Linked DNA regions of Homo sapiens: all the other regions are reported to be linked to region 5. The links are microRNA targets in miRTarBase. Many come from high-throughput screens and were not tested one by one. Region 5 holds a microRNA gene; each other region holds the end of a gene's coding sequence.

Evidence for each region. The annotated mature microRNA hsa-miR-6826-3p reads CUCCCCUCUCUUUCCUGUUCAG and lies in region 5 at 2,782-2,803, opposite strand. An mRNA with a match to its seed (bases 2 to 7 or 8) in the 3' UTR can be bound and repressed. Matches are read on the target gene's strand: a 7mer-m8 pairs with bases 2 to 8, a 7mer-A1 pairs with bases 2 to 7 and ends in A, and an 8mer does both.
Region 1: miRTarBase lists HOXA1 as a target of hsa-miR-6826-3p. Seed matches in the 3' UTR shown: 8mer at 3,174-3,181.
Region 2: the mRNA of ZNF85 is a reported target of hsa-miR-6826-3p. The part of its 3' UTR that is shown has no 7-base or 8-base seed match.
Region 3: miRTarBase lists WDR76 as a target of hsa-miR-6826-3p. Seed matches in the 3' UTR shown: 7mer-m8 at 1,214-1,220 and 7mer-m8 at 2,439-2,445.
Region 4: the mRNA of SHB is a reported target of hsa-miR-6826-3p. Seed matches in the 3' UTR shown: 7mer-m8 at 3,422-3,428 and 7mer-A1 at 1,169-1,175.
Region 6: miRTarBase lists NETO1 as a target of hsa-miR-6826-3p. Seed matches in the 3' UTR shown: 7mer-A1 at 2,833-2,839.

The regions. Positions count from the first base shown.
Region 1 is chr7:27,090,055-27,095,142 of GRCh38, forward strand. It overlaps HOXA1 (homeobox A1), which reads right to left. Exons shown (of 2, transcript NM_005522.5): 2 at 2,939-4,741. The coding sequence ends at 4,386. Among named protein-coding and RNA genes, the nearest start is that of HOXA1, 3.4 kb to the right of the region's middle. RefSeq lists enhancers at 1,534-2,444, 4,033-4,533, 4,534-5,034.
Region 2 is chr19:20,949,905-20,954,993 of GRCh38, forward strand. ZNF85 (zinc finger protein 85) reads left to right here. Exons shown (of 4, transcript NM_003429.5): 4 at 1-793. The coding sequence ends at 398. Among named protein-coding and RNA genes, the nearest start is that of ZNF85, 29 kb to the left of the region's middle.
Region 3 is chr15:43,865,383-43,870,471 of GRCh38, forward strand. It overlaps WDR76 (WD repeat domain 76), which reads left to right. Exons shown (of 13, transcript NM_024908.4): 13 at 746-3,030. The coding sequence ends at 1,010. Among named protein-coding and RNA genes, the nearest start is that of WDR76, 41 kb to the left of the region's middle.
Region 4 is chr9:37,915,592-37,920,591 of GRCh38, forward strand. It overlaps SHB (SH2 domain containing adaptor protein B), which reads right to left. Exons shown (of 6, transcript NM_003028.3): 6 at 307-4,413. The coding sequence ends at 4,230. Among named protein-coding and RNA genes, the nearest start is that of SLC25A51, 14 kb to the left of the region's middle.
Region 5 is chr3:129,269,936-129,275,024 of GRCh38, reverse strand. It overlaps MIR6826 (microRNA 6826), which reads right to left and starts at 2,879; the gene lies at 2,782-2,879. It overlaps COPG1 (coat protein complex I subunit gamma 1), which reads right to left. Exons shown (of 24, transcript NM_016128.4): 19 at 3,116-3,258; 20 at 2,610-2,781; 21 at 2,121-2,218; 22 at 49-187.
Region 6 is chr18:72,744,231-72,749,319 of GRCh38, forward strand. It overlaps NETO1 (neuropilin and tolloid like 1), which reads right to left. Exons shown (of 11, transcript NM_138966.5): 10 at 4,784-4,858; 11 at 1-3,934. The coding sequence ends at 4,798. Among named protein-coding and RNA genes, the nearest start is that of MIR548AV, 110 kb to the right of the region's middle.

The DNA of each region.
Region 1 (5,088 bases), not on the chromosome of region 5:
GGTGCCTTTTTCTGATCCATAGAGTGAGAGATTAGGGATGTGGGTCCCATTCAATTCTGGTCATTTAGGCACAAGGAGTCCTAAGGCAGAATTTTTGTGTGTTCTCACAAATGCAGGCACAAAGGGGACTTATCTAAGGCAGAGGGTCACCAAAGTTGACCAGTGACTAGCTTATCCCAATAGTGGCATGCTAACTAAAGGGTGTTCTTGTATGTACTGAAAAAGCCATAGCGTTTCTTTTACAGCCCCATCCAATATAAAGAAAGATGTTGTTCATGCACTAATTTCAGTATTTTTAAGCACAGGAGTTGCCTGTCTCTCAAAATAAATTAAAGCCTGAAATGCCTAGAGCTTCTGCTTTAAGAATGATTATTCTTAAGGAGGAAACACAAACAGCAGTGACCATTTTTCACAGACGTGCTCAGCCATCAGGAAAGCTTAATAAATCCCTATTTAGTATGCATTTATGCAGTGATTACATGAACTTTGACCTCTGAAGAGCTGTAGCAATTAGCTTCAGTGTCTAGCATCTTCTACTCACCATTCCCCACTGGCTTCCTTGTGTCTTCCTTTTTCATCTCTCAATACTTCATGCATTAAGAAGGCGTAAAATTTAAAAGTTGACTTTCCACCTGAGGTATTTGCTTCTGCGCAAGCCAATTCTCCCTCCCCCCTTTCCCACTCAACAGCCATCTCAGATGGATATTGGGGCTCTGATTGTCAATATTACTCAAACACAAATGGATTTCAATTCAATCTTGCCCTGTACTTTCACAAAGATAAACTCTAATGGCCCAAAGAGCTTCATTTCATAGCTTGTGGCATCTGAAATAAATCAGATATCTTCTGTCAGACTAATTTAACATTTTAACAATATTTGATGTGATTTATTTAAAGTCAAATGAAACTGAATGGATTGGCAGAAAACTAGAGGAGGGGGCAGGAGAAGGGCAGCTGGAAGCTTCCAAAAAACAAAAAACAAAAAAGAAAAAAAGGAAGAAAAGAAAAGAACCAAGAGGGGAGAGGAAAGTGTTTTAAGTTTCTAGTAAACATTGTTTAGCAAAAGAATAATAGGAAAGTTGCCCCTTTTCCAAAGAGGGATGGAACTATAATTGTTGCCTTTAGTTGAGAGCTCAGATAAACTGCTGGGACTCATTCTAAAGTGACCCATCACTGCATTCATCTCTTCTTGAACTTTCGGTGAACCTGAGATTAAACAGGGGTGAGCAGCTAAGCAGTTTGTTGTTAGCAGCCTTTTCAACAACCCTTTCAGACTGAGTAAATATTGATCGGTTTGAATCTGATTGCCCCAGAGGAAAACACCACCGCATTTGAATAGCCTCCAAAAGTAAACTTTAAAAGGTGAAACCCAGAGCAGACTTCAGAGCCAAAGCAAGACCTCAACTCAGCCTAGTTTGGGAACACTCTGTATTTGGGGAGTACTGTGGATAAATGTAGAGGAAGTGAGGAAAAAAACATTGGAAAACTAGAATTTTGTATCGCAGTTATCCCAGGTGCCTAACTGAGACCCTTGTTTCCTTTGTAAATGTATCAATAAAATGTTATTTTCAGTTTTCCCACTCTGTGTTGTTTCAGTTACCATTGCTGTCATTTTTCAAGTAGCTAACTGTGCTCCTTAGAGACCAAAGCAGAGAGACCTTGAAATAGGATGTGTTAAGCGCCTTTGATTTAATCGATTGAGACAGCTAAAAAGATACAAATGTTTTCCTTGTTGAAAGGTGTATTAATGTTTCCTAAATGCATTGCTTGTTAACTGATTTATTCCATGACCTAGAGAAAGCTAGAGATGGTTAGCCATAATTTATTGTTCTCTCTTGCTGCTACATTAAAACCAGCATCTTAAAGACTGGAATCTCTGGGATTCCAGTGGATCTCGCCCTGCTTTTAGATATTGAAATGGAGTCAATGGCATGCAAATGACACTTTAACACATTAAAGTATTTGGAAGCCAGCCATCTGTTTTGCTGTGTGGCCCTACACTAATAAACAAAAGATACAGTATAAGGCCAGGCAGGAAATGAAAGAAAGGGTTGACCGTCTTTGAAGTTCTTCTCCATCCACTTGAGTCTTTTACAGGCAACCTCAGAACCCAGCAGCTGAGGGGAGGGCACCCGGTGCCCTTGATATGGCCGCAGCAACTGCACCGCAAAGTTCAGCCTTCTCTTCTTTGACAGGGAAGTGCAGGAATTCTCACAAGTGCCCTAGACGGCCTGCAAATTCCAAATTTTTGTAGGGTTTTTCTCCTCCAGCCCGTCCTTTGTAAAACACCCTTTGGGGAGGAAGGAAGTCATCTGTCTGTGTTTGTTTTCAATGCTGTAAATTTTCTGCTGTACTGTTGGGCTAAATAAAATGCCTCCAAAAATGTGTGAAAGTAAAGGAAAGCAATAAAGAGGCCTGGGAGGAGAGCCACTTTGAACTCTATCATTTGCTGGCTTCCTCTTTTGAGAGCAGATACATACCTTGGTCAGAAACAACTTGGATATTGAAAGACTTCAGGGTAGCTTCCACAAGTTCACCTGGAAGTACCTGTGGAGCCCAGAGAAGAAAATGACTTTTTTTTTCTGGGTTATGTGGCATGGAATTAGAACTGTGGATCCTTTACAGCCATGACGGCTATGAAATCAAAGCTGAGTCTGAAGGGAATAAGATGTGCAACCCAGAGATGGGGAAGAAGGGGTGAAGAGCCGCAGGAAGGGATGGATGTTGACAGGAAGAATGGGGGAAGGGATGCAAGGGTTTACTAAAAACACTCCATTTCAAGGGTGGAATATATCAGAACTCTGCCTGACAATCCAAAAAGAAGGAAGAGGAGTGGAATAAGGGCCCCATCCTCACAACAACTTTATACTGGAGCTAATTAAATGTGAATCTCTTAGCTCTTGGTTCACTGATGTGAGGAAAGACTGACTGAAGACAGTTTTGGCTTTTGAAGGGAGTTCTGTTTATATATACGTCAACATCCAGTTGGAGGTGAAAAGGTTAGCACTTGACCCAGGAAGTATCCATGTTTGTTTCAAAAATAAATCTGCTTCATAAATTTCTTCATCAGTCTTTTTTTCCATTATGAGCTTTGATTATAATAAAGGAGCTGTTATTAACTTTTATTCAAGAAAAGGCCCATCTCTTTGAAAATATTTACCACCCTTCTCCCTTTCCCCTCATGAAATGTGCCAACTTCATAGGAATTAACAAATTGTAGCCCAGCCAAATACACGGATGCTTAAGCATACCTGAAACTTGAGTATATTTATTTATTACAGACATCCTAAGACCCGTAAACTCTGCTCTGGATCATATCACTCCAGGATCTCAGAGCTGTTCATGATTGTACAGGAAATGGGGAATATCATAGGCTCACAAAGGATAACTGATAGAACTCAGTGTGGTACTTTGGGGACATCAAACATTGTGCGACATGCAAAAGACTATTCACGAATAACACAAAATATACATTCATTGTGCCATCCATCACATTAACAATTGAGCTGAAAATACATTATATCCAGCTAAGATAACTGTGGAAGGAAGAAATTGGTTTGAATAATACTTTTAGGTTCTGAATAACCCAGCACAAATTTTAAACAGAGGGTGGCCCGAGAAGAAAGGGGTAGAGATTGGGAAAGACTTAGCACAGGAAGCCGGGTTTCTGAAGTTTGTGCTCTGCAGGGCTTCTTAACTGTAAGAACAAATCAAGGCTACCCTCTGAGGCATCTGATTGGGTTTAAATGAGGGAATTTTTTCTTTCACCTATAAAATTGTACCAGTTTAGAGAGTTTGCCCACCCTGTTTTAGTAACCTAAACATTTCTAGAAAATCTGTATAAAGATAAATCTCTTAGGACAAAGTATTTACAACCAGCAAACTCACACACATGAAAATGACTTAAATTAAGGGATGAATTAATTGTGTAAACATATAGTGCATCTCTTCTTCCTGAGCTCCTGGACTCGCCTTTCGCTATATCCTACTTTCAAGGACAAGGGAGGGGAGAGCTGTACATATAGTTAGATAAAAGATGAGAAGATTCCTTCTGGCATGTTTCTGTTGGCAAAGGGAACTATTTTCCAAAAGGTCATCTGAAAGGAACAGTAGGTTCTGTGAATTCTCCTAAAAGCAGGAGGGATGTTAAGGCCCACCAGAAAATGTATGCTGGCACCCAATCTGGATGAAGGTGTTAACCCCGCACCAAGTCTCTGGTCCAGAATTATCTGCAAATATATTATCCTGGCCAGGAGCTCCCCAGATAGGATTAGAAAGGAAGAAAGAGACTGTAAATGGAAAGAAAGATAAGCTAAGCATGTGCTTTGGGTAAGAAGTCCCAGCCCAAGGAGATGCCTGGGCTGTTGTCTGGGGCTGGAGCCGCCTCAGTGGGAGGTAGTCAGAGTGTCTGAGGTAGAAGACCCCGGGGAAGGAACGCAGGGCGAAGAGCTGGACTTCTCTGAGGATTCCTCGGCCTTCTCGTCGTTTCCTGGCGGGGTGGCCGGAGAGATGGGCAAGAGACCCTCCTTCTCACGTTTCTTTTGCTTCATTCGGCGGTTCTGGAACCAGATCTTCACTTGGGTCTCGTTGAGCTGCAGGGATGCAGCGATCTCCACCCTGCGGGCGCGCGTCAGGTACTTGTTGAAGTGGAACTCCTTCTCCAGTTCCGTGAGCTGCTTGGTAGTGAAGTTGGTGCGCACCGCGTTGGGTTGACCCAGGTAGCCGTACTCTCCAACTTTCCCTGGGGCAAAGTGGGAAGCCATGAGACGGAAATGTAAAAATTTTTAAATCGACTTGAGATTCCCCACACGCTTCATGGCAACACTCAGGTAAAGAAAAGATCAAGAACTCAGCACAAATCGGGCTGTGGAGGGTGAGTGATGAGGTGTAAAGTGTTAACCTGATGTAAACCATTAGCATGGTCAGACCGGTGATTAATGGAGCCTCAAGATATTAACAGAACACTACCGTCACAATAACCACCCCCACATACTTCCTATTTCCCAAATGTATAAAATCCTTGAAAACACACCAATCCCTGAGACTTCTTTGCCCCAACACCTCTGGGCACCCTCTCCATGCACTACA
Region 2 (5,089 bases), not on the chromosome of region 5:
ACCAGTCCTCAAATCTTACTAGACATAAGAAAAGTCATACAGAAGAGAAACCTTACAAATGTGAAGAATGTGGCAAAGGTTTTAAATGGCCCTCAACCCTTACTATCCATAAGATAATTCATACTGGAGAGAAACCATACAAATGTGAAGAATGTGGCAAAGCTTTTAACCAATCCTCAAAACTTACCAAACATAAGAAAATTCATACTGGAGAGAAACCCTACACATGTGAAGAATGTGGCAAAGCCTTTAACCAGTCCTCAAACCTTACTAAACATAAGAGAATTCATACTGGAGAAAAACCTTACAAATGTGAAGAATGTGACAAAGCTTTTAAATGGTCCTCAGTCCTTACTAAACATAAGATAATTCATACCGGAGAAAAATTACAAATATGAAAATTATGGCAAAGCTTTAATCAATTTACAAGTCTTACTAAACATAAGAAAATTTATACTGGAGAGAAACTACTAACCTGAAAGATGTGACAATAATTTTGACAACACCTCAGACTTATAAAAGTAATCATACTGGTGAGAAATTCTAAAAATGTGAAGACTATGGCAAAGTCTTTAAATGGTTGTCACACTTTAGGTAAGATAATTCATATTGGAACAAACTACAAGTGCAAACAATGTGGCAAAACTTAATTTATGCTCACACCTTACTGCACAGAAAAGAATTTTTAGTTGAGAAAAAGTATACAAATATAAAGAATGTGGAAAAGCCGTTAATATCTGCTCACATCTTACTCAGCATCAGAAAGTACTTAATAAAAGCATTATAAATGGAATTACTGTCAAAAGCATTCAGAAAATATAAGCCTTTAATGTGAAAAAGAGTAACCATTTTGAAGACAAACATTGCAAATTTAAAGAGGGTTGTAGTACCTTTAATTGTATCACAAATCTTATTGTACAGATTTTGTACTAGAGGAAACCCCTGAAGCAGTTGCTTAAATTTTGTTTAAAATCAGATTTTTTTTTTTTTCTTTTTGAGACGGAGTTTCGCTCTTGTTACCGAGGCTGGAGTGCAATGGCGCATTCTCGGCTCGCCACAACCTCTGCCTCCCGGGTTCAACCGATTTTCTTGCTTCAGCCTCCTGAGTAACTGGGATTACAGGCATGTGCCACCACGCCTGGATAATTTTGTATTTTTGGAAGAGACAGGGTTTCTCCATGTTGTTCAGGCTGGTCTCAAACTCCTGACCTCAGGTGATCCACCTGCCTCAGCCTGCCAAAGTGCTGGGATTAGAGGCATGAGCCACCACACCTGGCCAACATCAGAGGATTTATATTTGAGAAAAACCCTGCAAATGTAACAAATTTTGAAAAACTTTTTCAAAAACTACAGCTTAAAAAGCAGCAGAGGATTCATACTAAAATATATTTTTGCAGATGCAGTAGATATAAAAATATATTTAATCCAAAGTTAAGTTTATGTAAATATCAGAGGATTCACAGTAGAAATATCTAAGGTGCTGGCACTTCAGACACCACACTAAATCAGAGTGCTGAGTATAGAAAATAATCCAAAACTAAATTTGGTGGATTAATTATTTGTATATAACTTTAAAAGAAGTAGAACTTTTTTTGCAGAGTTTTAATTACATTCAAAGTATACTTTTTTCCTTAAAAAAGTTAGGTTTTTTTGAAAAGAAAATAATCATGTCATTCAACTTTCAAATTACTTCATGCTCTTTCTTCTTCATTGCTATTATATTCACATGTGAAAGCATGTGATCAGTGGTTGCTACATCAAAGATAGGAGATTTTTTTTTCTTAGGTCATTATTTATGACCTTTTCTATTAAAGAATAAGAACATTAGGCTGGGCGCAGGGCTCATACGTATAATCCCAGCACTTTGGGAAGCTGAGACAGGCAGATCATGAGGTCAGGAGTTTGAGACCAGCCTGGCCAATATGGTGAAACCCCATCTATTAAAAACTACAAAAATTAGCTGTCCACTGTGGCACGCACCTGTAACCCCAGCTACTCGGGAAGCTGAGGCAGGAGAATCACTTGAACCCAAAAGGCAGAGGTTGCAGTGAGCCGAGGTCGCACCACTCCACACTAGCCTGGGCAACAGAGCAGGACTCTATCTCAAAAAAAAAAAAGTATACTATTCTTTTTTTTTCTTTATTTATTTTATTTTTTATTTTTTTATTGATCATTCTTGGGTGTTTCTCGCAGAGGGGGATTTGGCAGGGTCATAGGACAATAGTGGAGGGAAGGTCAGCAGATAAACAAGTGAACAAAGGTCTCTGGTTTTCCTAGGCAGAGGACCCTGCGGCCTTCCGCAGTGTTTGTGTCCCTGGGTACTTGAGATTAGGGAGTGGTGATGACTCTTAACGAGCATGCTGCCTTCAAGCATCTGTTTAACAAAGCACATCTTGCACCGCCCTTAATCCATTTAACCCTGAGTGGACACAGCACATGTTTCAGAGAGCACAGGGTTGGGGGTAAGGTCATAGATCAACAGCATCCCAAGGCAGAAGAATTTTTCTTAGTACAGAACAAAATGAAGTCTCCCATGTCTACTTCTTTCTACATAGACACAGCAACAATCTGATTTCTCTATCTTTTCCCCACCTTTCCCCCTTTTCTATTCGACAAAACCGCCATCGTCATCATGGCCCGTTCTCAATGAGCTGTTGCGTACACCTCCCAGACAGGGTGGCGGCCGGGCAGAGGGGCTCCTCACTTCCCAGAAGGGGCGGCTGGGCAGAGGCGCCCCCCCACCCAACTTCCTGGACGGGGCGGCGGCCAGGCGGAGGCGGGCCCCCCACCTCCCTCCCGGACGGGGCGGCTGCCGGGCGGAGACACTCCTCACTTCCCAGACGGGGTGGCTGCCGGGCGGAGGGGCTCCTCACTTCTCAGACGGGGCGGCCGGGCAGAGACGCTCCTCACCTCCCAGACGGGGCCGCGGCCGGGCAGAGGCACTCCCTGCATCTCCGACGATGGGCGGCCGGGCAGAGACGCTCCTCACTTCCTAGACGGGATGGCGGCTGGGAAGAGGCGCTCCTCACTTCCCAGACTGGGCAGCTGAGCAGAGGGGCTCCTTACATCCCAGACGATGGGCGGCCAGGCAGAGCCGCGCCTCACTTCCCAGACGGGGTGGCAGCCAGGCAGAGGCTGCAATCTCGGCACTTTGGGAGGCCAAGGCAGGCGGCTGGGAGGTGGAGGTTGTAGCGAGCCGAGATCACGCCACTGCACTCCAGCCTGGGCAACATTGAGCACTGAGTGAACGAGACTCCGTCTGCAATCCTGGCACCTTGGGAGGCCGAGGCTGGCGGATCACTCGCGGTTAGGAGCTGGAGACCAGCCCAGCCAACACAGCGAAACCCCGTCTCCACCAAAAAAATACGAAAACCAGTCAGGCGTGGCAGCGCACGCCTTCAGTCGCAGGCACTCGGCAGGCTGAGGCAGGAGAATCAGGCAAGGAGGTTGCAGTGAGCCGAGATGGCAGCAGTACAGTCCAGCTTCGGCTCGGCATCAGAGGGAGACCGTGGAAAGAGAGGGAGAGGGAGACCGTGGGGAGAGGGAGAGGGAGAGGGAGAAGGAGAAGTACACTATTACGTATGCTCCAGCCTGGGTGACAGGGCGAGACTCCATCTCAAAAACAAAAAAGGAGCGCACCAGCATGGCACATGTATACATATGTAACTAACCTGCACAATGTGCACATGTACCCTAAAACTTAAAGTATAATAAAAAAAAAGAAAAAAATAACCATTGTACCACCAAAAAAAAAAAAAAGAATAAGAACATTAAAACGTAAGATGCATGATGAAAATCTAAGTGGTGGGGCTCTTTGTGGTTAACATAATATTGAGTGATATATGAGGTGGTTGTTTAGAGTAATATTCTTCTGCATTATAGTAAATGAAAAACATTTTTAATATTAGTTAAAATTAGTAATATATTATTTTACTAATTATATTTCTATGTAATAAAATGCAGTACGTTTTTAAATTTTCAGACTACATGTAAACTTAGTTTTATAATTAAACTTTTTTAAACATATTATGATCATTGTGCATTCAACGATGCGTTGTGATGCCACTAAGTTTAACCTATCTACCGTACTCAAGAATGTAGTTAAAAGATGGTTACAGTGTGCAGGTTGGTAACATAATGAACTAACATCTCTTTTGCCAGTGGCTTTAAACTGCAAATAGGTTAAAGAATATTGTTCTTGTAGGTTAAATTTTTATTCTTTTTTTCTTATATGAACTTATTTTTAAAAATTTTTGTGAGTACATAGTATGTGTATATATTTATACCATATATAGAATATTTTGATACAGGCATATAATATGTAACAATCACATCAGGGTAAGTGAAGTATCCATCACCTCCAGCATTACCCTTTGTATTACAAACCTATTCTACACATTTAGTTCTTTTGAAATGTGCAATTGTTATTGGTTACAGTAACCAATTTGCATGGAATGTCTATTTCCATCTGGCCACTTTGGCAAGTGGCAAGATTTTGGTCATGATTTTGTTTTATGGTCATAATAAGAATTGTATAGAAGTATTAATAAAATCCATACATTTCTGAATTCTGAATAAACATTTAAAAATTTGTTAATATTTTTCTTTAAACATGTGGTCTTACTGCCTGCAAACACATACAGACTCTTAATTTTTATTTACATAGATGTAAATATACACATATATTACTCTAAAGATAAACCTTAAGGGTAAGAAAATTATAAAGTATGTGTGTTTTTGTGAATATGAATTTGTACCTATATTCAGAAGAAAAGAGCAATATTGGCACAAAACAAATCATCTTAATAAGGTAACTAATTGGCTGTGTGCAGTGGCTCACGCCTGTAATCGCATCACTTTGGGAGGCTGAGGCGGGTGGATCACCTGAGGTCAGGAGTTCGAGACCAGCCTGACCAATATGGTGAAACCCCATCTCTACTAAAAATACAAAAATTACCTGGGTGTGGTGGTGTGCACCTCTAGTCCCAGTTACTCAGGAGACTGAGACAAGAGAATTGCTTGAACCCAGGATTTGGAGGTTGCAGTGAACTGAGATTATGCCACTGCACTCCAGCCTGGGTGAAAGAGT
Region 3 (5,089 bases), not on the chromosome of region 5:
CGGCCTCAGCCTCCCTAGGAGCTGGGATTACAGGCACCCGCCACCATGGCCAGCTAATTTTCCTATTTTTAGTAGAGACGGGGTTTCACCATGTTGGCCAGGCTGTCTCGAACTCCTGACCTTGAATGATCCACCCTCTTGGCCTCCCAAAGTGCTGGGATTACAGGTGTGAGCCACTGTACCTGGCCAATTTTTGTGTTTTTAGTAGACTGGGTTTCGCCGTGTTGGACAGGCTGGTCTCGAACTCCTGACCTCAGGTGTTCCACCTGCCTCGGCCTCCCAAAGTGCTGGGATGACAGGCTTGGGCCACTGTGCCTGGCCATATTATGTATATTTTTAAAAAATTTATGTAGGGTGACTATTCTAGGGGGTAAGAATTTTCATTAATGATGGGGTCATTTAAGTGGCAGTGGGAAATGTGTAGTCCATACTTTAATGAAAAAGGATTGTTAGTGATATTAAGGCAAAAAGACTAAAAGGGCAGTACTTCTGTTTTTGCTTTTGGGAACTATAAAGGGCTCCATATGTTTTATTTTGGGAGATTTTTAGATGAGGAGGATATCGTCTCTGTCCAGAGGTTCAGTCCTGTAAGGATGAGGTAAGGTTGGTGGTAACTCAGTAACTTAATGAGAAGAAACTTGGCAGAGAAAACTAGCATTTAGGAGCAATGCCGTCTTTACCCTCTGCCCAATGCTACCTTATTTAACCTTACTTCATTTAAAAAATATATTGTTTTCCTCACTAGGCACAACACTTTCACTGGGCGATGGCTGACCAGGTTCCAAGCCATGTGGGATCCTAAACAAGAAGACTGTGTCATAGTTGGCAGCATGGCCCATCCACGACGGGTAGAAATCTTCCATGAGACAGGAAAGAGGGTGCATTCGTTTGGTGGAGAATACCTTGTCTCTGTGTGTTCCATCAATGCCATGCACCCAACTCGGTATATTTTGGCTGGAGGTAATTCCAGCGGGAAGATACATGTTTTTATGAATGAAAAAAGCTGCTGAGTTTTTGGTTTAGGAACATCAATTTGTTCAAATTGACCACTGTCTAAGGAGCCTAGTAATCGGCGTGCCTTAGTGTGTTTATGTGGTAATGTGTTACATTTAGCAATTATAACATTGTTTTATTAATAAGACTATAAGAAGAGTGTACTTTTAGTAAGGGAGAAGTCTTGGAGGGTTGCTTCTGCAGGACGGGGAGGGAATTTGAGGGGAGGCTGAGGTGCCGTCAGGACTTTTTTTTTTTTTTTTTTTTTGAGATGGAGTTTTGCTCTTGTTGCCCAGGCTGGAGTGCAATAGCGCGATCTTGGCTCACCGCAACCTCCGCCTCCCAGGTTCAAGCGATTCTCCTGCCTCAGACTCCTAAGTAGCTGGGATTACAGGCACCTGCCACCACGCCTGGCTATTTTTTTGTATTTTTAGTAGAGATGGGGTTTCATCATGTTGGCCAGGCTGGTCTCGAGCTCCTGACCTCAGGTGATCTGCCCGCCTCGGCCTCCAAAAGTGCTGGAATTACAGGCGTGAGCCACCATGCCTGGCCATCAGAACTTGTAATCAAGACAGTATGTTGAGAAATTCTAACATTATAAATTACAAAGCTTTGACTATTAAAGTTTTTGTGATCTAATGATACAGTTTTGATTCTATAGTAATTTGTGGCTTATTTTATAGTTTATAATGAATACTTATTTCTAGACTCATACACTGGAAGGGGACCCGGAAAGGTAATGTAACTCAGTGATTTTAAAACTTGATTTTTTTAACTGAGAACTTTTTTTGCCCCCTGCCTGTAGGTTAAGTCTTACGTGAAATGCCAAGATAATTGCTGAGCAGCTTTGGTTACCCAGGGCGGGGTCTGGGTCTGTCTGTACTTTGCCTTTACTCTAGATGGCTCCTGAGACACAGGCAGGACTCCCAAGCACCGGGTTGGGATCTGCCCTGGTCCCGGCATTCCAGTATAAGATTGCCTCAGACCTGTGTTTTTCAGACTGGGTTTTTGCTCTTCACATGAAATCAAGTTAGATGACAATGACTGGTGTTGAAAAAAATGAAAAGGAAAGAATTTGTAAAGAACAGAAAATATATTTGAGTAAGTATTGTTTGGTAAAACTTAGTTACATATGCATATATATTTGTTAGGTATATATGTTTATGTGTATTCTGATGTAAAATATATATATATATATATTTTATTACTATAGTACCATGGGTAATGGATAAAGAAGTTAAAGCTACTGCTTAGAATGAAGAAGGCCCCAGGCTTACCTGTCCCGATCTTTAAACTGTCCGAAGGAAATTCAATAGCCTGTTAAGTGAATACCTTCATTCTTACTTGTATTTGGGGGAATATTATGAAATACTCACCACTTTTGGTATTTTATGAAAATGTTTTCTTTTCAGAAGTTATGGTAATTTCAATGTGTTTGTTGTTGGGAGGGGAGCTGCCAAATCAGTTACTAATATTACTGTGTGACATCTATCCAACTTTTTTCATTATTCTTCATTGCCAAATACTGAAAGACTTGTAAATGGCTTTGGCAATATGTTTGAATTCTAAGAGGAAATATTTTCCCATAATTGTATATCAGAGAAATATAGTGATATACAATTTCCTTGAAAACCAATTTCTAAATAATTTTCTTCTCTGTAATCTAAGTGTAAAAAGGTTTAGTTTTTTAATAGGTTTAGGTGTTTATAAGCAATAGTTCTCTATTTTCTAGTTGATATAAGTAGAAGAATTGACAAGTGAGATGGAAATGTTAATTTATAAAGGGAAAGAAAAGCTAGGTGAGGTTGAGTTATAATTAAACTGTTCAGGAAACATCGTAAAGGCTTTAGGCTCCCTTTTTCATTTCTATACCAATTAATCTCATGGGTTCTAGAGTGGTTAGTTCTACGGGAATTGTTTTTGTTTTTGTTTTTAAAGATGCTGAAAACTACTCTCAATCAAATTAGTACCATCATTTAAGCTTTGAATACTTGGCAGTAATTGCCTGGGCTCGTCAATAAATGTTAGCAAATTCTTGATGTTCCTCACTTTTGTGGTTTCTTTTGCCATTGTGGCTTCATAAACAGTGCTATTTATATTCAGTTATACTTTATAGAGTTATATCTTCAGGCAGTGCAGGAAGGAAGGAGAATGAGTAGGGACTTTTTTTTTTTTTTATTGGTGATAAGCTTTCTAATGGAGTAATTGTTTAAATCTAGACAGCACATAAAAGAAAATTGTCTCCCTTGGGACATTCTTACACTGTAATCTGTAGTGAAAGGTACTTCTCCCACAGACTTGCCTACAGCTGTGTGGCTTCTGTAATTATGTGTGTATTATGATTGCCTCCTTCGGGATAAGCCTTTTCTGTAAGTTTGGCCTTTATGATATCTCTTAAGCTCTGAATTCCGCTTGAGTTTTTTTTTTTTTTTTTTTTTAAGATACCCAGGCTTTTGTTATGTAACTTTTAAGGAAGGAGCAGACAATTCTCATTTTTGGTTGTCAGAGACTTTGTCAGACTAGGAGAGACCACAAATGATTAGGAATTAATAGAATCTGAGTTGCTTAAGTCCTATTTTAGTATTCTGGTCTTTGAGCTTCCTTTCCACCAAGAAGATTTTGCAAGGGGAGTTCTCCAGGAAAACAGGGAGCCTTAGGGCTATGGATACAAGGATTTAAATCCTTTCAGCTAATGTACAGTACATGGGGTAGGGTGGGGGAGAAGACACACATGCCTTCTGAATCAATCTGAGAAGAGGAAATATATGCCCTCTAACTTCAGATTCCAAAAACTTCAATGTCCTATTGGGCGGTCCTTTCTGACTTAGTACATTTCCCCCTGCTTTTTAGTAGGGTGTTGATGGCTAGAAATAACAAGACAGCAGATTGTATTTTGACTTATTTGGCTGTAAATACTTGGATTTTCAAATGAAAAGGTAGAATTTATGAGGAAGATAACATTTAGTACACTTACACGGAGCTGAAGAACAAAACATTTTATGATACATTTTCCCCAAAATGGAAACTGGGCAAGAGGAAATTTATTAAAAGGGTGCTTTGCTTGTTTTACTCCATTCCATCAGCAGGTCGTAGGGGTCTGAAGAGGAAGCCTGTTCATGAGCTAAAACCAAAAGTGTGTTCAGGTGCAGAGGAGCTAGATTGTGCTAGAGGAACCCAAAGCAGAGGGAGTAGGGACTAGAGTCCTACAGGGGTGTGTGCACAGGTAGTTCTTGATAAGCTGTCAGCAGAAGGGAGGCTGCTGTGAATCGGCAGGGCCACGGGAAGCCACCCAGGTCCAGTGTTTCTTGTGCTTTTTACTCTTTGGATCACTTCAAGCAAAATCTTATGTCATAAAAACAAAAAATTCCGCTGGGGATAGGGTGCTAGATAGCATTTTTTAGGTAGTGGGTACCTCTGAAATTTGGAGGTAACATAGCCTGATTGGTGTTTAGGAGGATGATCTGGCAACAGAAATGGGAGAGTGGAGGGCAGGCAGAATTGAAAAGACAAAGATTAGGTAAGAAGCTAGCACAGTGGACCAAGCCCCCATTATCACCTCTTATCCTCATGGAATTTAGAAGACCATTTCCAATTCCGTAGCCACAGAGTGATGGTTACATAATCAGATGAGATAATGCTATAGGGATATATTTTGTAAATATGTGGTGGTGGTATCATTGTAGTTCCTTCTTAGAAAGTATTTTCTGTGCTCCCACTTACTCCAGGCTTGAGTAAGAACAGCAGACCAGAAGGTGGACAATCTGGGTTCTAGTTTGGACTCTACCACTATGTAATCTTGGGAAAATCACTTAGTCTTCTTGGTTTTCCTCATCAGAAAAATACCCAATTCACTTTAAAATTATTACATATATAGCTTCTCAGTTTTTTTTTTTTTTTTTTTTTTTGATGTGGAGTCTTGCTCTGTCACCCAGGCTGGAGTGTAGTGGTGTGATCTCAGCTCACTGCAACCTCCGCCTCCCAGGTTCAAGCGATTCTCCTACCTTAGCCTCCTGAGTAGCTGGAATTATAGGCGCCCGCCACCACACCTGGCTAATTTTTGTATTTTTAGTAGAGACGGGGGTTTCACCACGTTGGT
Region 4 (5,000 bases), not on the chromosome of region 5:
CAGGCACCCGCCAGTAATCCCAGGACTTTGGGAGGCCAAGGTGGGAGGATCCCTTAAGCCCAGGAGTGAGACCAGTAGCCTGGCCAACATGGCAAAACCCCATCTCTACTAAAAATGGAAAAATTAGCTGGGCATGGTGGTGCATGTCTGTAGTCTCCGCTATGTGGGAGGCTCAGGTAGGAGGATCACCAGAGCCTGGGAGGCAAAGGCTGCAGTGAGTGGAGACTGTGCCACTGCACCCCAGGCTGGGTAACAGAGAAAGACCCTGTCTCAAAAAAAAAAGAAAGAAAAAAAAAAGACAAATGGTAAACAAGACACTTGTAGTATATTAAGAGCTTCACATTAAATATTCATCATTATACAGTGTGTCACATAGATTTGGAATGTTACAAGAGACTTCAGCAGTAGGTGGCTGGTTTAAGGCTCCTGGCAGGGATGCAAACAGCCCCAAGGAGGGAGGTGGAAAGGCCAAGGGGCACCTGTGTTCCAGGACCAAGGGGCTTGCCCTCCTGCAAGCGCGCCTGTGAACAAGTCCCCGTGGGGTTCTGGGAGGTGCGCCCACATCTAAGACTGTGCGCCCTGCACTCCCTCTGGATGGCTTGCCGAATTTGGTCTTCGCTGATCACCAATTCTGGAAGGGTGGAGAGACAGTTGGCTGGACAGCTGCCTGATTCGGCCATGACCCTTCACGGGTGTCTGTGGGCCAACACCAAACGCCAGCCTGCTCTGCTGGCAGGGCTTCTACCTGCACAGTCCCTAGGGCTGCAAGAGCAAATGGGGACCCTGGCTGCCGGTCCTTGCCAGGCCCTTGGTCAATGATATCACCACTTCTGAGACAGCGTCTGGGGAGCTACCGGAACTTCGTGTTCAGCATCTTACAAAGGGGGCCGCTGGTTCTGGGAATGGGCAGAGGGAGCCTGCAGCTCCACCCTGTTGACCGGACGCCTTGCGGGTAGCTGCTTCAGGTTTCCCTCCTGCTCACTCTCAGGCCACAGAGGGGCCCCGGCCCACAGCCGCCCTGTGAGGACAGGGCCTGCCTCCTGAAGCCTCGGAGTCTTTGCACCCCTTTCCTGGGAACAGCTACGCTGTGAGCCTCTCTCCAGGAGAGGGTGTCAGCCTGGGCCATTCTTCTGACTTCAGGACGGGACTGGCAGGCGGTGGGGCCCTCTTCCCCTACAAAGCCTCCTTTCTTTCTGTGGGCGCCATCCTGTTTGGGGGGCTGCCAGAAGGGCCCTTGACTCCTCAGCGCTCAAGGACAGAGTTGCTCAAGTGGGCAGGCATTATGGTCAATAATAAAGCCAGCAAAGAAGGGAGACACAGAAACAGCCGCTAGTGCTGGAGGTTCTCAGACAAAATGCCGAGGGCGCGACGTTGTGTGGCAGGAGCTTTTCTTTTCTCTCAAAGAAATCCAGCTCAATTTTTTCCCCAATTAATTGGCAGCAGATGAAAAAAAAAAAAAACAAACCCAAAACAAAAACCAAACCAAAGCCAGTAACCTGAATGTGAGTGTTTCTGAAAGGGAAAAGCTGTTTCAATTGTTAGATGTCCAAGAAAACATGAATACAGGCTGACACAGGAAACGGTCACAATTAGAGGAAGAAGAGGGAGAGGTTCATAAAATTAAGGGAAAAAAATTCTTTTCAGCAGCTCCCATCCTGTAAGCTGGCTCCTCTGCTGGCCTCTGTCCCTGAGAGGGGCAGGAGGTTGGGCCTCCCAGGGAAACTTCAGGAAGACGAAGGCCAGGGACAGAGGGAGGGTCCCAGGAATACCCTAAGAGGCCAAGTCAGGGCCAGAGGGCACAGCTGCCAGCTTCCACTGAGACCCTCCCAGAGCCTTTTCTGAGGAGCAATGTGCCCGGGAAGATGGTCTACAGGGAAGGACCGTGAGGTGCGGCCCCACCCAGCAGCCTCAGGAAGTGGCTGGACCTGAACTTGCCAGTGTGAGGTCTCACCCTCCTCCCCCGCCGGAGGGTTGTTCCCCCTCTTCCTCAGCCTCTCTTGGGCCTCCTCTGAGAATAAGCCTTGGGGTCCAGGCTCCTCTGTTTGGCCAAGTGCCAACTCCTCACTCATCTTGTCATTTCCCACCTACCTTCCCACTCCCCCAAAGGAAAGCACGAATCGTTCCAGGGTGTCCCTGCCTTCCTCCCTCATTGAGGGATGTTTTAGGAAATGCCAAACAGGCAAGGAAAGGATTGGCTTCTTTAAGAGATTAAACCCAGGCCACAGCCAGCGTGGTCTCTATGAGGGCTGGGCCACGTGGACGTGCCAGACAAGGCCTGGGAGGAAGACCCAAGAGGCAGACTGGTCACTAAAGGCGGGTCACCAAGGGCAGGGCTTTGCACAAACCGCTGAAGTCCACGCAGCTACCTAAAGGGGCAGGGCTCAGTCCCAGCTCGACACGTGGCCTTGGCGAGTCCTCCTTCTCCGGGCCTGTGTCTCTGCATGTGAACAGTGAGCTGGAACCACCTCCAAACAGTCTCTAAAGACATGAGCAGCGCTGATGTCTGAACCTGCTGATGACATTCAAACTCGGCCCCTTGTGCTCTGCCCAGGTGGGCCAGGGATGACAGTCGTCAAACTTCTAGTTCATTCAGACCAGCTGGTGCCTGGCGAAGGCTCTGGAACCCTTGTATCTCATTCAGGAGAGGGCAGCCACATCTTCATGCTACTGGGTGGGTGGAAAAAGCAGGAGAGCTGAGAAACTCTTAGCCTCATCGGGGCTGCCTGGCCTGTGTGGGAGGACCCTGCTATGGCAAGCAAGAGAGAGGTCGCGTGTGCGTGTGCGTGTGTAGGTGTTCTTGTGTGTGGAAGCAGTGTGGACCACTGAGGGCTGTGTGTGTGTGTGTGTGTGTGTGTAGGTGTTCTTGTGTGTGGAAGCAGTGTGGACCACTGAGGGCTGTGTGTGTGTGTGTGTGTGTGTGTGTAGGTGTTCTTGTGTGTGGAAGCAGTGTGGACCACTGAGGGCTCTATGTCCCTGGGAGGTCAGGATTCTCCCTCCTCCATGGGCAGGGTGACAGCAAGGCCATGCAGAACCAACGAAAGAGCATTGGCTGCAGAACCGCTCTGCTGCTGGTGAGCTGTGTGGCTTTGGGCAAATGACGTTCCTTCTCTGTCTCCCTTTCCCTACATGCCAAATACCTCCCAGGTGGTGCTAACAGATAGTGGGGAGAGAGCCCTTTGTAGCCAGCTGGGTGCTGTGTCCAGGGGTTGGGGGGGTGTCAACACAGACGTCCCACTGCAGGAGGGAAAGACTGGTTTTTTGGTCAACACTGGAGGCTCCTGACTATGTCCACTGCTGAAGCCTGAACTCTGAGCTCTGGGTTGACTCCCAGAGTGCTACCGACTGCCTCAGCCCAGTTGTCAGAGCAGACGGCTCTTGTGTCCAGAGCTGCTGAGGGCTGGAGCTGAGGCCTCGGCCTCCCTCCCCTCCCTGGGGCCTGCCACAGCAGCAAGCCCAGAGGAGACACGCCTTGCTCTGGGAGTGAAACCAGAACTGCCCCCTCAGAGACCCTCTGCAGTATATCAAAAAAGGATAAGGCTATATATTAAATGACTATTTTATTTACACACCCTATTCATAAATAATTGAATCCTCTTTTTGACTGCACAATGATTCCTTGAAGATAGCCTAATGATTACACTGAGTGACTACAAGTAGATCAGTGGGCTTACCCATCTGTGTGTGACCACCTTCTCACATCTGTACTCACACACACACTCACACAGACACACATATACACACCAGCGGGGCGGGAACCCCGGGGCCTCCGGGACTCTCAAAGCACCAGCATTTGGCTCCCAGCATCAGTAGGGGGGCTCCTGTGGGAAAACTTTGCCCTGTACAGAGGTGTGAATTTGAGACAGCTGGAGAACAAAGAGATGTCAGCCAGGGAGCTCCCGCCCCACCCTACCCCGCCCCTCGGAGCTGGTCTGCCTTTGTTCATCCTGGAAGGCATCTCTTTGGATTTGCAAATATTTTAATTCACAGAAACTCAAGGAGAGGGTGGGGGTGGGGGCTGGGGTGGTGTGTTGCCGCCCTTCTGTCTTTATCCAGGCCTTCTCCAGCCCCCGTAAGTGGCAACAGCATTCTAGAGACATGCAGTGGTGTGCTAGTACCATACACACAACACAAACGACACAGCCAGCAACAGTGGCTGGGCTGGTTGGTGGGGGGCCTCTGGCACCTCCAAGTCTCAGGCTCTGTCACAGAGCAGGGCAGGTCTGGTCCGCTCACAGGGTCCTCACAGCCACGGGATAGAGGAGGGACAAGTGCTCAGCCCCTTTGATGGGTAGCTTTCTGGTGGTGTAGTAGTGGATGACTTCCGGGACACTGTCGAACGGAGGGCTGTTCTGACCCAGAACGTATTTCTCTTTGGTTTTGGCCAGTTTCATGTGCATAAAACCCTGGTTGCTCCTGTGAACAAAACACAGAGTTATCAGAACTACCCCCCTGACACTCAGGCTGAGGCCAAGGGTCTCCTCAGCTGTCTGGGACAGAAGGGATCCCAGCCATGAAGTGGCTGTGAGCTGCACCTCTCCAAGCCAGGACCGAGGCCCAGGACCAGATGAAATGCAGCTGCACCCAAGCGCACCCCCAATTCCGGCATCTGACCCGGAACCAGCAGCAGCCGCCACTGCTACAAGAGAGCATTCCAACACTGAGCGCTTCTAGGGACTTCTTCAGAAAAACAAAACAAAACAAAACAAAACAAAACAAAACAAAACAAAACAAAACAAAACAAAACTTAGTCCCTCTTTTCTATTACCAGTGCATATCCCTGTTTAAGCCTTGCCTGACAGGTGCAAAGTGTGTTCATGTCCCCAATGCCATGACAAGTGGGTAGGGCAGGGGTCATCACCCCCAGTTTCCAGAGGAGGAAACTGTGTGGCAGGGATGGCAAGTGATCTGTCCTTCCCTTTCAGTAGTAGGAAACTGTCACTGGGAAGGGGCCACCCAGCCAGGGACTACATTTCCCAGCCTCCCTTGCAGGCAGTTAGCCA
Region 5 (5,089 bases):
AGATCTTGAACAGTAATTAGGCCAGAGATGGCATTCCCAGGATTTTACCTTCAAGTGTCTTGATGGTAGACAAGGTGAACGTTTCCTCCTTCTCAAATTCATCCCCTACCTCATCCCAGGCTGCTTCGAAGTTCAGTTTCATGACCTTTTGAATGTGATCAGCTACAGTAACTTCCAGATCTTCCAGCTGGAGAGATGGAGGTAGAAATCAGGCACCCATCTACACACCTACGGGCCTCTGCTCTGAACTCATCCACACATCCCTTCCTGCAACTCTTTCCACAGGTGCTTGCTCGGCACTGAGGACTGTGCTAGACTCTGGGGACATAGAGCAACTTGACCAGGTACCTATCCTTGAGGTGCCCAAAGGCAAATGGTATCCCTTCAACAGAAAACGCCCTAATCCCAAGTACCAATCTACTAATTCAGCCTAGAGCCGCCTGCTGTGAGATCACATCTCTTCTAAGCCTGCCTAGTGTCAGTGCTTCCAGGACCTGGCATGCAGGGAATTACATAGCATTCTCAGAGGTCTGCTTCCTATGCCTGTCCCTCCTAGGGGATGATGAGCTCTTCAGGACCAGCAGCTGTTTCTAGTTCAGCAGAAACTAGCAGAAACCTCCTACCCCAGCTGTGTCCTCTGGATTTGACAGATCCTGAATCTCTATCTCCATTTCAGCTGTGTCTTCCCTGAACTTGACACATAATACTCCCACTGAGTCTACATGAAGGTTCCCCATTCATTCTCCCATCAGATTTTCACTGAGGCCCTACTCCTGTGGATGTTTACAGTGTATATAAATACAACTTAGACCCAGCTCTCTCTCTCTTTTTTTTTTTTCTTCATCTCTGGATGGGCTCAAACAGACCCAGCTCTCTCAAGGAGCTCACTTGGTCTTAGAGCAGCTCCTGCCTCGGGGTCATTTCCAGCTCAAGGAAGGTCCATCCATCCTCAACTGTGACTCTAGGATGACACAATGGCGAATGTCAGTTGTATTCCACTGTGACTGTCCCTCTAGTCAGGAGGAGTTCTAACAGTCCCCATCCACAGGCTGAGCATAATGGTCTGCACTCAGATGGCCCTGAGCCACTGCCCCAAAGTCAGACCTCAGAAGGATCCTGTACTTAGTTCCACCGAGCTAAGATAGGAGAATTTAGAAGGGCTATTCCAGTGCATGAAAGGACTGCCCAGCACAGCAAACAGGTCAAATTTATCCAGAAAGCATTTGACAAGAGGAATCAAAATGTCTTAAAATCATGCTTACCCTTTGACCCAACTATTCTCCTTCTAGGAATCTATCCTAAAGAAATAATCTAAAATGCAGATAAAAATTTGTATCTAAAGGGATATTTAATGCAGCAATATAAATAGTGAAAATATGGAAACCCAAATGCCCAACATTAAAGGAGTGAAAAGTCAATCAAGTTTTGACATAGTATATAACAGTATTTTAAATCCACTAAAAAAATTGTGTTTATGAAGTATTTGTAATGATACTGGAAAATACACTATGGTTTTAAAATAGCAAGGTCTACACTGTAAGAATGATTTCAATTATACCACTTCCCCCCAAAAATAACTCTAAGGATTATGAGTAATGTTTTCCTGTTGTTCATACTTTGTTTTGAATTTTGTTTTTGTATTTCCCAAGTTTTCTTTTTACACATGAACATGTATTTCCATAAGTTTAAAAAGTTATTTTAGGCCGGGCGCGGTGGCTCACGCCTGTAATCCCAACACTTTGGGAGGCCAAGGTAGGTGGATCACCTGAGGTGAGGAGATCGCGACCAGCCTAGCCAACATGGTGAAACCCTATCTCTACCAAAAATACAAAAAATTTGGCAGGCATGGTGGTGGGCGCCTGTAATCCCAGCTACTTGGGAGGCTGAGGCAAGAGAATCGCTTGGACCAGGGAGACAGAGGTTGCAGTGAGCCGAGATCGCGCCACTGCACTCCAGCCTGGGTAACAAAAGAGAAACTTCATCTCAAAAAATAAAAATAAAAAAATAAAATTTTAAAGAGCTAAAAAGCCAAAAACAGCTCCAGTCTCACTGTCAGTTCCTGAAGGGAGTTGCTTTGCAGCCTCAGCACAAAACTGAGCTTCCTGACACCAGGATCTTACCACATACTCATCCTCATAGCCTTCGTCATCAGTCTCCCCAGTGGTGGGATCACAGTCCTTGACAGTGAACTTCATCATGCAGCTGAATGTGCAGGCCACTGTGGGGAAGAGAGGCTGGGTAGTTAGGATGTCCCCAGCCTGCAGGGGATGGGCTCCTCCTGCAGGGGACAAGCAGGCAGGGGTCACAGCCTGCTTTCTAGGCCCCTGCTATGTTATTAGTAGCAGCAACAAGCCATCCAATCCCACAAAGCTGGACAGAGGGTGCCACCTTGTAGGACAGGAAAGTCATGAGTTCTAGTGAGATCCTGTCTCTTTAAAAAAAAAAATTTTTAAAGAAGAGCACTTGGGACTCAGCTATTCTTCTTCTTGGGACTGAAATCAAGGAGCTGAAGCTCTAATAGAAGGCAAACAGCTGGTGCCCAGCCGCCCACCTCCTCCTGACCCCATGAGCTCCCAGGAGGATAGGGTGGTATCTGGAGAGGGGCTCACCAGCTGTGGGGTCTTCTTTGGGCAGTGCCACCAGTGTGTAGCAGGTCCCGGGCTGGTTGTAGGGCAGGCTCCGGGCAGGCACGTAACAGAGCACCTCATAGGCCTCAGTGGGCTCCATCTGCACTGTGACATTCTCCAAGGTCTGGTCATTGAGTGTGTTTGTGCAGTCAAACTGAACAGGAAAGAGAGGGGAGCTTAAACATTGCACTAGGTCCGAGCCATGCTGCAGAGGAAAAGCCAGGAGGTCCCACCTCTTTCCTATTGACCAAGGTGATTCCCATCCCAGTCCCCCTGCCCCAGGTTCCCTGTCTTCATGCTGACAATCGGGAGCCATGGATGTCCCGAGTCAAGAGATATGAGAGACCGACCTGTTGGGGACAGATTCTGTCATCAAGTTGGGCTCCCAACCAATGCAGTGTGGGGACCCATGACCCTACAGGACCTGCCAGACCTGGGACAACTCCCTGGGCGCATGCCCCAGCAGGGCCTCAGCCCACCTTGCTCACCTGAAAAACCATGTGGTTGGTGAAGGTGTGTTTGGTGCAGCGGATGACATACTCCGTCTCTGACTCGGTGAGGGCCACGGGCTCAGGCGAGGACTTGAAGAGGGGCCCAAGACCGCGGAACTCTGGCACTGCTGCCAACTGCTCTGAAATCCACAGGCCACATTCACTCAGCTTCTCGATCCCCAGACCAACTTGTTGATGGTTTCTAATAAATTCCCATGACCATTCTCAAGGTGTTCCACCCTACCTTAGATGGATAGATATGTTTACCCAACTGGCTACTCATTATTTCCTGAATATATCCATGCATTTTCTCATCTCCCTGACTTCGCTCATGTGGCACAACCCCCCACAAATACTCTCCCCATCTCTGTACCATGAAAGACCTCAGAAGCAAAAAACTGATATGAGACCACAAAATCCTAGACCTAATTGGAGAATCCCCCAGCTATAGAAGCTTAGCAAGGATTTCCGCCCCCTACCGCAGCAAGGATTCTTAAAAGAAGGTGACAATTAGGAAAATAAGATCGATACTGCTATAGCTACAAAATCAGACAAAATAACAAACTGGTCCTATATATTTATCAGTTAAGACAAATGGCCAATAAAGAGATATTTCAGAATGAGAGTGTTGCAGAAAACCTAACTTAGAATTGTTTGTGTCTGGTAAGACCTATCCCTACACCCTATGCCCAGGTTCAAGCACTGGATTCAAGCACAGGCCCATGGGACCCCACCCTGGCTGGTCCTGGCATTCCTTGCAAACTAAAGGGAATAACCCAAGTGAATGAGGCATCTGGCAGATGTGTGCACATGGTGTCCACCTATAATGGCTACAGCTGCCACTCTTGTACCTATTCTATGGCAGGATTCCTCGCACTATGACCATGGATCAACTGTATCAGAATTACTAGGGGTTGGCGGCAGAGCTTGCTAAAAACTCAGACTCCATCCCAAATCTACTACATCAGAATCTCTGGTTTCAGGATCAAGGAATTTGCATTTCTAACATGTTTCCTCAGATTATTCCAATATATACTGATATTTAAAGACCACTGCTCTAAGATTTTCAACTTGTCTTCCCAATTAATTGAACTCCATGAGAACAGGGATTGTGCTTTGAGGCCATGGATCTGATATTTTTCCCTTTACTTAGAAGGTACTCAATTCACGTTTCAGACATAGAGAAAGGTAGGCCTTATTTTTATTATTTTGCTTTTTTCCTCCACAAAAAGTCAGCCTATGTGACCACTTCAGCCCTCTGCAGCCTGAAGACTGAATCTAATGAATATGCAGGCAATAAAAAGCCCAGAACAATCCAGGCTAGATATTAGGAGGAACTTTTGGGCCACCATGACCATCAACCACTAGAGTGCTTTTCTATTGATATTTATTTTCTTGGGACTCAGAGTTTTGGGCCTGATACTTACTCCCTGGGGGATTCTGTTGGTAGGGTTTCAGACTCTTCATCAATAAAACTGATATCATTATCTTGATCACAGCGTTGTTGTAAAGACAAATGAGGCAATAAATTCAAGATCTAGGAAAGTTCTTGGAACTGAACATGTATGTGATTAGTAAATGTGAGGCTTTTGGATGATTGTTTAAAAATGGAATTGTTACCCTTTAAGCGGCTTAGGAGACTTCCTTGGAAGGTGTGGCAGAATAATGACTCCAAGATGCCCACATGCTAATTCCCAGAACCTGCAGCTATGTTACCTTGCATGGTAAAAGGGACTTTGTAGATGTGATTAAATTAAGGATCTTGAGCTAGGGGTTATCCTGGATTATCCAGGGGGGGCCAGTGTAATCATAAGGGCCCTTCTAGGGCAGAAGGTCAGAGTAGAGAGATTTGAAAAGGCCAGGAGTGTGGCCTCTTCAAATCACTCTACTCTGACCTTCTGCCCTAGAAGGGCCCTTAAAGACGGTGGAAGGGGCCACGAGCCAAGGATACGGGCCACCTCTAGTAGCTGG
Region 6 (5,089 bases), not on the chromosome of region 5:
ATTTATTTTGATGATACAATTCAGTTAAATTTGTGGTACAATTCAAACAAGTTTATTAATAAAATGAATCATAATTGTAAATTAACAAAGGGCCTCAGATTTATTTAGCAGGATTATTTATAAAAACATTTCTGGCTATTTTAACAGTGTACTTTTATTTTTCTACCTTATTACACCTTTAAGATGGGCTTGGGAAATATTAATTAAGTGCATAGAGATTGATAATTAACTCAAGACCTGTTTATTTTGTTGTTGAATCTATTTTACAATTTCTTGGCTGGGTCCTTTACGCTAGAGTGCAATAGATAGAAATGAATCCATGGAGGGAAAAGGGCACAGAGAAAAATGGCACCGAAGCTAGCTCGCCTCAGTGCAATTAGACAAAACCCTAACTCACTTTTCAAAGCATATTTATTTAGAATTCAAAGAATTTTAAAAATGTTGTTTATTTAACTTCCCTTCAGAGAGGGAATCTGACATGACTCATTTTCATCAGAGATACACAAACTTCATAAGATGCTATTATTTATTTCACTGACAAAACATCAGTAAATTAATTGCCGCCACTTTAATCAAGGTAATAGGAACCAGGGGGTCATATCTTGTAATTTATTATGATATTCTGAGGTTGAGGAAAACCCATTCATGGAATTTTTTTAAAGCTGTAAAATTTGAGGAAGACCCGAATTAAATTCCTAAGGGAAAAATACAGAAAAAAATGATACAGAAGCTTAAGTGAATATTAAAGTAATGCCAACCGTCTAAGTTACTTAACACTGAGGATCATAACTTATGGAGTCATCAGACTCACGGAAATACTTCTAGAGCAAAAGTAAATGTGAAACAGAAAAACCAGCAACACCACAATGTGATTTGTTCTCCATTAAAAGCCCAAAGACACTGATCTCCAATTATGTGGACAGCCACATTTTGGTTACAAAATCAAATTCAAGTTAATTATGGCAAATCAAACACCACCTATGTCTACTTTGCAAGATAATGCTTAAAATTGGTATGTATATAAAAACATACAAAATAAATCAGATTTCCAAATTAGAACCTTGAAATTAGGCAACTACAATACATTTGGACAGAAGTACGAAGCTTAATATGGGGATTCATTGGCATTGCATGTGATTATATGCTACCATTATTTTGAAAAGTGAATGAAAACTTGAAAAAATAAAATGAAAAAGAATAGCTTTATGAAATTAACACAGCAGGCTAACTTAATGCATTATTTGAAATCATCTTGTTAAATCAATAAAGCACTTGGGTTGGTAATATTTGAATTCACTTTATCAAAAAATATAATCATTTATTAAAATAACATGTCTTATAAGTCTTGAGACATCTCATTCCTTATCTATGTGTGTCACCACCTTTAGAATGTGGGCCAAAGGCTGCATTCAGGTGATAAGGTCTGATATAGCTACTAAATCGTTTTTGATATATTGACAAATTTCAATACTGGCTGATAAATAAGCACCGCCAGAGCCCTCCAGAGAACATCTCCCAACTCTGCCAGAGCGCTGCACTCCCAAGTTTGAGCATCTAGAGTGAATGCCAGGAGAAAAGGCTACCTCCAGACACTGCCCAGCATCGTCATTATCTTCTTTCATGATTAGTCTGTGTCTGTACATTGTTGAGAAATTTTAGAGTTATCACTGAGGAGGCCTGTTCTTCATTTAAAATACAGTTGTTTTCCCATGAAGCTGCTGTGTGTTAAATATATGTGAGCTATTCATTCTTATTATTATACTTCATTTAGTGTTTTTTTTTAAAGTCCCATTGGTAGATTTCTGGTGAAAATACCTTTTAAGCAGGGAATCAGCATTCTGTATATTCAGGAGAAACTGGAGGGGACGGACATGCCGGACAGTTATAGAACAAATTAATAGTAAAATGTTCACCTAACTTATTTCACTATTTTTATTGCTGTTACAAATAAAAAATCTTGACAGTTATATCATACTTTTGAGATTATCATTCAAAGGGAAAGGAGTCCTCTGAAGATTTCTAAATGGAGAAAGCAATATAAGATATGATTAATCCTTTAAAAAAATCTTTGGTGTATTAATTTTAAATTAAAGGGCAAAAAAGGAACCATGGTAATAAATAAACCAGTCAAGCCAAATAAAAAAGGGTACATTTTATCATAAGCAATGTGTATAAAACTATGTAGCATAACAATGAAAAATAATCTTTGTCATGTTCAAAACCTTTTCTGATTCCCTAGTTTATCAAATTCATTGAAGTGATTCTGTAGCTTGACATTTTTTCAAGATAGAGTGTTTATAATGGCTATGATAACTCTTTGACTTTTCTATTATAAAAATTTATTTTCTATTTGCTTATTTTTTAACATATATGACATTGTATTCCTAGTAGGGAAGTATAACAGTAATTCATCTAGTTTGCAAAGCCTGCTTGAATTGCAAAGTCCAAATTTTAGTAGACCAGACTGCTCTGTTAGTGGAAGGACAGAGTTCTTTAAACCTGGAGAATTCAGTAGTTTTGAAAATGTTGGGAAGCATATATACTGATAGTAATTCTTATTTTAAAAATTTATTTTGTAAGATTACACATTGAATATTTTAAAAAATAACCACTCACCAAATCAAACTTTACAGAGTGTGTATATAATTTAATAGCAGTAAAATATATTTTAGGATTTTACTTTATGTTAAACACATCATAATCACTAAGCTTTCAGGTGTATTATGTGTACCTGAGAATAAGAATAATTCATAATGGTGGTTTAATTCATAAAAGGGCTTGTGATTTTAAAGCAGTTTTAAAAAGAGTTCCCTATTCTAAAAGAAGAAAATATTCCCCTAAACTTTTAGAAGCCAAATATTTTGGGAAGTAAACCTCAATACTGAAGGACATCCTGTACCCTAAAAGGTGGAAAGAGTTGACATAAAATGTGTATTTATGTGAGTCAGTTTTTTAATCACTCTAATGGAAGAAAACATTTCTCTTAACTCAAATTAGGAAATTATTATACATTTTATATATATTTATATAAAAAGTCGTAAGTAGCAAGCATATGACATAAAGAAATGGAAGAGTAACAACAGTATTTGACAATGCATGCTTTTCACAATGTGTCTAACAAAAAGGATATTTTCCCAACTCAAATATCCAGTACTGACATGCAGGGTATTTTCTCAAACTGTCAATTTGGTCATATTGCTGAGTGCTTAATCAAAAACATTTCTACTGTAGAGTATGAATGGTAAAATACCTGACTTCAAAAAGGATTTCTGAAACTCAGTACTTTCTTTGATATAAAACAAAAAGGAAATCAGGGGTATACAGGAAAGACCAAAAAATGAATTTTTTTATTGCAATCTAGTAATTTTACTTGTTACTTTTTCCTGTATTTAATCAGAATATAATAATAGGTGTGTATAGTCCATAACCTCTAGCTGGTGATTCCATGGTCCACACTGTCACTTTTCACTGTAGCATGTTCAAAATCATTCAGGAACGCACTATTCTCAAGCTGTCTATATAATGAAAACAATGTACATGTAACACAAGGTTCATCCAAATTCGTGTTTTTTTTTCACATATCACACAATGTACAATTATATAACAAAGACATAAAACAACATAGAAACAAAAGTGAAACTGACAATAAAAATAAAGTTGGGATAGTCTTAATCGGGAACTAATTTCTTCTTCAAGTTTCCAGTTAATCTCAAAATGTATTTAAAAACTAAGGAGCACTTGGTGGCCAGCAACCAAATTACGAAATGAACATATCAGTGTGCAGCGGGGATGTCTTGCCGAAGGAATAACAAATGTCTGTAATTCTTAAGTTTGGATAAAGGCAGTGGAATGAATTTAGAAATATGTCCACTTTTCACAATTCACTATAGAATTTTCTTTTCACAGTCCCCATGTTTGTATAAATAGTTCTTCTCTGAAAATAAAAAACAGTTAAAACATTTTCTCCCAATGAAAAATGCATACAAATACACCAATTTATTAAGGTAATATAGAGCATGGAAATGCATTCACCTAGTTCAAGAATAGTTGATAGGCTTGAGGAGTTTAGAAGAGATTAGCTGTCAAGCAGATTCAATTGGAGACAAATTAGGCTAATATAGATATAAACAATCAAGAGCAAAAAGTAAAGCCATTGTGATATCTGATGACAAAATCGATGTACACGTAGACAACTGGGATTAATGAAACCTTTTGCATTCAAATTTTATAGTATAAAATTTGACTTAACATGCTGCATTTAATTTTGATGAGATGAGCTACATATTCATGCAAAAATAAGAGTCTATAAATTGTGTCAGTACCAAAAATATTTAGTGTACGAATTTTGAGTACAATTGTTGCCAAATTACATAAAGAAAGTAGTTACCAGTTTTAAATATTAACTTCAGCTATACTGAGACTGAATATTCTATTTTCTTAGTTTAAAAACCTTGGTTTTTTTCGAGTATTTCTTTGGAGATAGTTCATTAAAACTTTACCTTAAAACATGTAAAGTTTAGATTATTAATTTGACGTCCTTCTAAATTACATTTTAGTACAATTCTTGATGTTAAGAATACTAAGATTTGTTTTAAAGGTATGTATCCCGAGAATCATCTCTCCTATAAACACTGAACCCATCGTATTTCTAATTGTGAAATGTCATGAAACACATATCTCAAGAAATAATGGATAAATAGCACATTCCCTAAAAAACTACAAGACAGTTGCAACAAAACAGAATACGACAAAGTAGGAAAAGGAACCAAGGGCATCTGCTTACCTTGAATTTTCTTTCTAGACCCTAGTTGTGTTGTATTCAGATTCATGTTTGCTTAGAGACCCAATGAGGCAGAACCTGGAATGTTATGGCTATTTCATTCAACAAAGTACTATTTGCACAAAAAAATATGTATACAAATATTTACTCAAAAGCATTTTTAAAATTCAGAAAACTGTGGAAATAGACTTATGTCAGCATGCAAAACATATCAAATCAACTGAAGTATTTTAGGTTTTGAGAATGTAATGAATGGAGAAAGTATGTCACGATTTATAAAATAAACTAAATGCTAGTAAACATGCAAAA